Linked DNA regions of Homo sapiens. The protein of the gene in region 2 interacts with the protein of the main gene of each other region in a biochemical or structural test. Each region holds a gene or a part of one and is shown on either strand. Other genes may lie near its edges.

Region 1 (3,126 bases), on a different chromosome or scaffold from region 2:
GGTTGGGCCACTGCAGTCCAGACTGGGCGACAGAGCGTCTTTGCCCCCATCACCCCACCCCCAAACAAAGAAAGAGTAATGCACCAGAGTCATGAAATAATGATCTTACCACAGAGGGCGTAAAAAACAAAACCTCAGAAAATATTACCATATTTCGAAAGACTTGTGGAAAATAATTAAGGACCAGGTAGCAGAAATTGTGATCAGAGGAAATAACATAAGAATATACTTAAGCGCACAGTACATAGTTGGAGGGAGAACTGTTTATCCTTCTAAAACCGTTACTATGATCAACACAGACAAGAGACACTTCCCTGAAAGGTTAAATTGTTTCATGAGAAATAAAAGCAACCAAAATGAGCCACATTATCTACAATAGAAGAGACTATATGGAAAAAGTTCTATGGCAAGAGCTAATTCGTTGGTATACAAAAAGATCCATGAAAAATGACCCAATTTTAGACACATTAGATATTGCAGGCTCAAAAATCAAAGGAACATTTTGAAAGCTAATTTAAATTTAATTAATTGCTGAATGTCTCCTTGGCTAGTAGTTGAACGATCATTATTTAGTCCCACATCTCTCTCGTCATTTTGTTTGCAAACTGTCTAAAAGCCTTATTTCCTCATCTCTTTGACAGATGACCAAAATGGATCCTACAGTATAATCACACAGGATAATGTTGGAAAGTATGACTATCTAAATTATTTTTAAAGGCATTATTTTTCCCCTTTGATTTTCAAATTCTTTCTCATAATTTCTAAAATGGTGTCGACAGCGGCCTGTACTGTGCCTTCACTGATGTCATCACTGAGATCACTCTCAATTGCTCTCGAACTTGTTGTTGGCCTTTCGTGTAGGTATGAACTGTGGCCCGGCAGATCTGACTGTTGTTGCTGCTGCTTCTGTTCCTGCTGATGCTTTTCAAAATAGTCTTCTTTTATTTTCTTCGGCTGTTCTGAAGCAGGAGTTACACATGATGTCTTTGGAAGATCTTGCGATGTGTTTCCGGAACTACCTTGCATGCTTAACTCAATAGTACTGCGGAGATGTTCATCTTCTCTATTGGTTTCTTGGCGGCTTAGTTCAAGGGCCCTCTGAAAATCCTCCTCATCTTGGTCTGATGTTCCAGACTCATCACTTTCTTCTGATACTTTTTCAAGGACTGTTTTATAGACTCTATGCTCTTTTTGTTTTACTAATTTTTTTCCATTAAGTTTTGGTGTATCCATCTCTTCGACACTGATGATCTGCAGGAGTTGGTCAGCTTCACAGTCTGGCAGATCACCCTTGACAACAAATACAGAATATGCTTGTTGTTGTAATCGAGCCAAGAAATTTGCAAGGCATGTATCTGATATTAATTCTGGACCCGCCAAGAGAGAATTCAAGTTAAACCAGTGTTTTCCAAATTTTCTAATAGTAAACCAGTGTTGTTTATAATTACATATAAAAGATCTTTCATTTATAGGATCAATGCCGAGCTTCTGATATTCAGGATTATTGAAATGGATGATCTCTAAACCCCAGAACTTCAAGGCATTGCTTATTACCTGAATGGAGAAGAAACCGGTATCATCCATGTTTTCTGAAGGCTGCTGTAAAAATGCAAGATACTCTTCACTGGTGACTCCTCCTTCTGCCATTCTCATCCTCTCTTCTTCATCTAGCTGATGTGCAATTGAGGCTAATTCCACAGGGCTAAAATATTCTCCTTGCAATAGATTGTTCAGACAGTGCTGAGCACACAGGAAACCTTCCTGTTTCTCATGAAAGATGAAATCCATGTTAATTGTATCCGTGAGTTTCTGTAGGTATGCCGGAAGATGTTGTATGCCCAGCTATGGCAGTTACCTGGGCAGTTTGTGGATAGCCATGTAACAGATGTTAGGTTTTCAAACCTTATGAAGACCATGGGTTTTTGCAGGTATTCAGGTAAGAGATGGTATGTCACAAAGCACTATTGTGACCAAGGTGGTTTTGCCAGTATCCAGTCAAAAGCTGATGGTAAACCTAAAGTGAATATGGGATTTTGGAGTTATCCCATAGATGATAATGGTGACTTGCACCATAGTAGTGCCCGTTGGAATTTCAGATGTCCTATAAAAATAATGTCTCTCTAATTATGCTTGTCAGCATGGTTTTAGTAAGTAAATAAAGGTGAAATTTACCACAGCACTAAACAGAAGATTTGGCAGGTAACTGGGAGAGAAATAACATGGGCTTTAACCGAATGGACACCATGGGATTTTGGAACTGTCTGGCTAAGTTATCATGATGTCACTGACCACAATAATAGCCATAGAATTTTGTAGGTTCCAGTCAATAGATGACAATAAAACTCACAGTGGCAATGAAGATGGGACTTTGCTGGTATCCTAGTTAGAGATTATGTGGACCTGAAAAACATGAGTGACCAAATGATCTTCAGACATCTAGAAAACTGATGATGATGTCCTGAACTCTTTTCTTATCCATGTGTTTTTACAGGTGTTCAGGTAAGAAATGTATGTGCCTAACAAAAGTAGTAACCATTAGATTTTACTGTTTTCTAGTTCAGAGACAATCTTTCTCAAACTTAGTAGTGACAAAGATATTAGCAGGTATCCGGGTAAGATATCACAGAGTTCCTCACCACAGTAGTAACTATGGGATTTTTGCAGGAGTCCAGTGAACAGACAGTGTGTGAAACTACTATGTTGACCTTGGACTTCTCTTGAGTGTCCAAGTACACTTAGTGGTTGCCCTAATGATTATAGTGAGTGTATGCATGGAATTATCAGGGGTCCAGATGGAAGGACATGTATCCTGACCAGGGTTGCCACCATATGTTTTCTCAGCAGGTAGTCAAGAGATGATGGTGTCTCTAACTACAACATTGGCCTCAGAACCTTAAGATTCAGGTAGAGTTCATGGTTCCCCTAACAATACTAGTCACCATGGGATTTTTTGAGGTGCGTATAGAAGATGTATCCCTAACCACTACTGCTGCCATATGGTTTTGCAAGCTCCTATCAAGAGATAATGGTGAAACTCATATTAGTCATTTTTGTAGGAATTTCATGGAATCTAGCTAAGTGATTATGTGGACCTTAAACACAGTACAGACCATCTGCTCTTCAGAC
Region 2 (3,500 bases):
GCTCATAAAGTTTTGTGGATTTTGGAGCATTTGGGATTTTGGATATTCACATGTGGGATGCTCAACCTGTATGGACAATGTAAGGGCAACAATTGATAACAGTGCCTGACATTTAGTAGGCACTCATTAAACATCTGCTAAGTGAATGAATAACACAGAGTTAAAGATATGGAAAGTGGGCCGGGTGCAGTGGCTCACGCCTGTAATCCCAGCACTTTGGGAGGCCAAGGCAGGCCAATCACTTGAGGTAGGAGTTCAAGACCAGCCTGGCCAACATGGTGAAACCCTGTCTCTACTAAAAAAAATACAAAAATTAGTCAAGCGTGGTGGCGCATGCCTGTAATCCCAGCTACTTAGAAGGCTGAAGTGGGAGAATCGCTTGAACCTGGGAGGAGGAGGTTGCAGTAAGCTGAGGTTGCGCCACTGCGCTCCAGCCTGGGAGACAGAGTGAGACTCCATCTCAAAAAAAAAAAAAAAAAAAAAAAGATTTGGAAACTGGTCACTGTCAATCACTGGATATACCAATCATTTCAGGGAAATTCAGAAAATCATTAGAGCCAATAAAAATTTCAAGATAAACAGTTTTATCCATTTAACCACTGCATTTGGCGGATAAGAATGTCCATTTCAAAAAGGTTAGAGATGAATTTCAAGACATTTATACCACCAACTTTCATACAATTCAGTACTATGAGAAAGCAATTTGATACAATGGTGAAATGGTCAATAATACCTGGCTTTAATGGCAAGGATATCAATGACATATAAAATTTCATTTTCTAACCCTGTGACCAAAACAAACAAAAAAAGTCTATAGCAGATTAACACATTCACTTACTGGTTGCCATTAATCAGCCTTTTCACTAAGCAAATGACAGTTTCCACTTGTTTGTTTCTATAATAGAAAAATAAACCATGCATGCAATAACAAGGCTCCTATATATTAACAACAGCTAGTACATTCAAGCAGCTATTCATTCCTTCGCAGCATAAATATACAATTGTGAAGATTACTTACTGTTCATTTATCATTCTCTCCATTCCCTAATCCCCAACCACACTAGCAAATCAGAAAGATAACGTGCTGCCTGGACAGAACACCTTACATGTTTGTTTTTTTTGAGACAAAGTCTCACTCTGTTGCCCAGGCTGGGTGCAGTGGCACGATCTCAGCTCACTGCAACCTTTGCCTCCCAGGTTCAAGCAATTCTCCTGCCTCAGCCTCCCAAGTAGGTGGGATTACAGGTGTGTGCCACCATGCCCAGCTAATTTATGTATTTTTAGTAGACACAGGGTTTTACCATGTTGGCCAGGTTGGTCTTCAACTCCTGGCCTCAAGTGATCCGCCCGCCTTGGCCTCCCAAAGTGCTGGGATTACAGGCGTGAACCACCATGCCGGGGCGATGTTTCCTTACTTACGCCACACAGTAAAGTTTGAATACTACAGGCAAAAGCTTTCTACTATCTTACTTATAAAATGTTCATCATAAGACCTCTCATAGAGGATGTGAAAGAAAGAGAGAATAATGTAAATTGAAAACACCACAGAATTTGGAGAATTGTATTTGAATCTTGGGACTGCCATTTATTGACTATGTGATTACTCAACTTTAGAACCCTTTGGAATCTGTTATCCAGCTGGAAAATGAAGATGACAACATTTTCAAACTCTTTCCCTCCTTTTCACAGCTGTAAGTTCTTAGAGAAATAAAAGTTTGAAAGCATGCTTTAAGAAGTAAAGTACCAATATAAATGATAATTATTATTGCTCTCTGTATGAGTAGTAGTATTACAACAACTGTGAAACTATTCAGGCAAATACACCTGTAAAATTTAGTTATTCTGGGCCCCACAACTGTAATCCCAGCACTTTGAGAGGCCGAAGCAGGCAGATCACCTGAGGTGAGGAGTTCAAAAACACCCTGGCCAAGATGGTGAAACACCGTTTCTACTAAAAATACAAAAATCAGCTGGGCATGGTGGTGGGCACCTGTAATTCCAGCTGCTTGCGAGAGTGAGGCAGGAGAATCACTTCAACCTGGCAGGCGGAGGTTGCAGTGAGCTGAGATTGCGCCACTGCACTCCAGCCTGGGCGACAAAGCAAGACTATGTCTCAAAAAAAAAAGAAAGAAAAAATTTAGTTATTCTCCAAAGGGTGCAAAAATATATGTACTATCAGCACCATAAGATGGGGCAAGAAAAAAAAAAGATGTCACTAAAAACAACAACAACTAGAGAATTAGTCTATCTACGAGTAAATTTTAAAAATACGTATATTCCACACAATGAATTACTATATAGTTGTTAAACAGTTAAGATTCTTTTACTAAAAATATAGAGATTGCTAAATACTCGATTAATGAAAAAGGTTCAGAGTTGAATGGAAAAATAATCTACTTGGGGAAAAGGGGGAGGGGAAGATACAGATAAATAGAATCTAGCATATGTATACAATGTGTCTTGAAGACTACATAAGAAACCTAACATTGTGTACTTGTTGGGAGTGGGACCCATGGTCAAGGAAGAAAGTAGTAAAGCAAACTTGTTTTTCCTTTTCATTTCCTTTTATACTGTCTATATTTTTTAAATCTATTATTATATAATAGTAAGTTGTAAATTTTTTAAAAAGCAGTACAAGACTGTTCTTCTCCCTGAGCAGTACAGATTTTCCCCAATCTATAGATTCTGCCAAGATACTTTTACCTGCATTGAAGTAGGGTAGTTTGTCATTAATGTACATCAGACAGTAAGCACTAACATTTCTCAGGCCTCCATAGGAATCTCTTTCAACTTCTTCCCAGGAAGATTCAGTAACAGAGATGTCATTGTACTTGAGCCAGCTCTGTCGGGGTTGATTATAGATATAGGCCCAATAGTGTCCAGCATTTGCTTGTCCTTCATGAACAAGAACTGCATGCAAGCGATAAGGCACCTGTAAGTCAGAATGTACATTCCCCAGTCAGGTGAAGCAAAGTAATCTGATAAAGTTTAGGTTATTAAGAAATTACTGTTTATGATGTGATTAATGTGGGGTTCATATTAAAACATCTTGTTGATTCAAGATGAAGTCCACAAAAACACAGCCTTGGAATTGATCAATTATGTCTCAGTTCCAAAACCTTGAAAACCAGATCGCTGAACTACATGACCTCTCTGAAGACTCTTTCAACTCTAAACTCCTCAGATCTAAAACCAAACATAACCTAAACATATGCATCCTTCTAATTCAAAACTCTGTTTATCTAAAAATAGAATCACCTTGACCACTCATGCTGAAAATGCTTAGCATATTTGGGACCTACAAAGGTTAGCAGCTATTTTGTTCCATGCCTATTTTATTTGGCAACAAAATTTAAGTTAACATATTTAATTCAGCCACATGCTTCTTAGAGTTAAGTGACCACTTATCTATCTGGAGTGAAGACCCTTTTAATGACATACTTGTTTGTTACAACATTTGAAAAGCACATTTGTGTATTTTCAATATAGAGAAAATAGAG

What was found. Proteins that work in one complex are often made in the same cells at the same time.
Region 1: of the proteins of USP28 (region 2) and ATXN3L, one has a biochemical effect on the other in vitro, tested with the Homo sapiens proteins (one large-scale study listed by BioGRID).

Annotation. Positions count from the first base shown.
Region 1 is NC_000023.11:13,318,147-13,321,272, forward strand, and holds ATXN3L (ataxin-3-like protein), read right to left. Parts: upstream 1,908-3,126; 5' UTR 1,789-1,907; coding exon 721-1,788; 3' UTR 501-720; downstream 1-500. UniProt on the Homo sapiens protein: Deubiquitinating enzyme that cleaves both 'Lys-48'-linked and 'Lys-63'-linked poly-ubiquitin chains (in vitro). Acts as a deubiquitinating enzyme for the transcription factor KLF5, playing a role in the regulation of KLF5 stability.
Region 2 is NC_000011.10:113,809,573-113,813,072, forward strand, and holds part of USP28 (ubiquitin carboxyl-terminal hydrolase 28), read right to left. Parts: intron 2,933-3,500; coding exon 2,704-2,932; intron 1-2,703. UniProt on the Homo sapiens protein: Deubiquitinase involved in DNA damage response checkpoint and MYC proto-oncogene stability. Involved in DNA damage induced apoptosis by specifically deubiquitinating proteins of the DNA damage pathway such as CLSPN.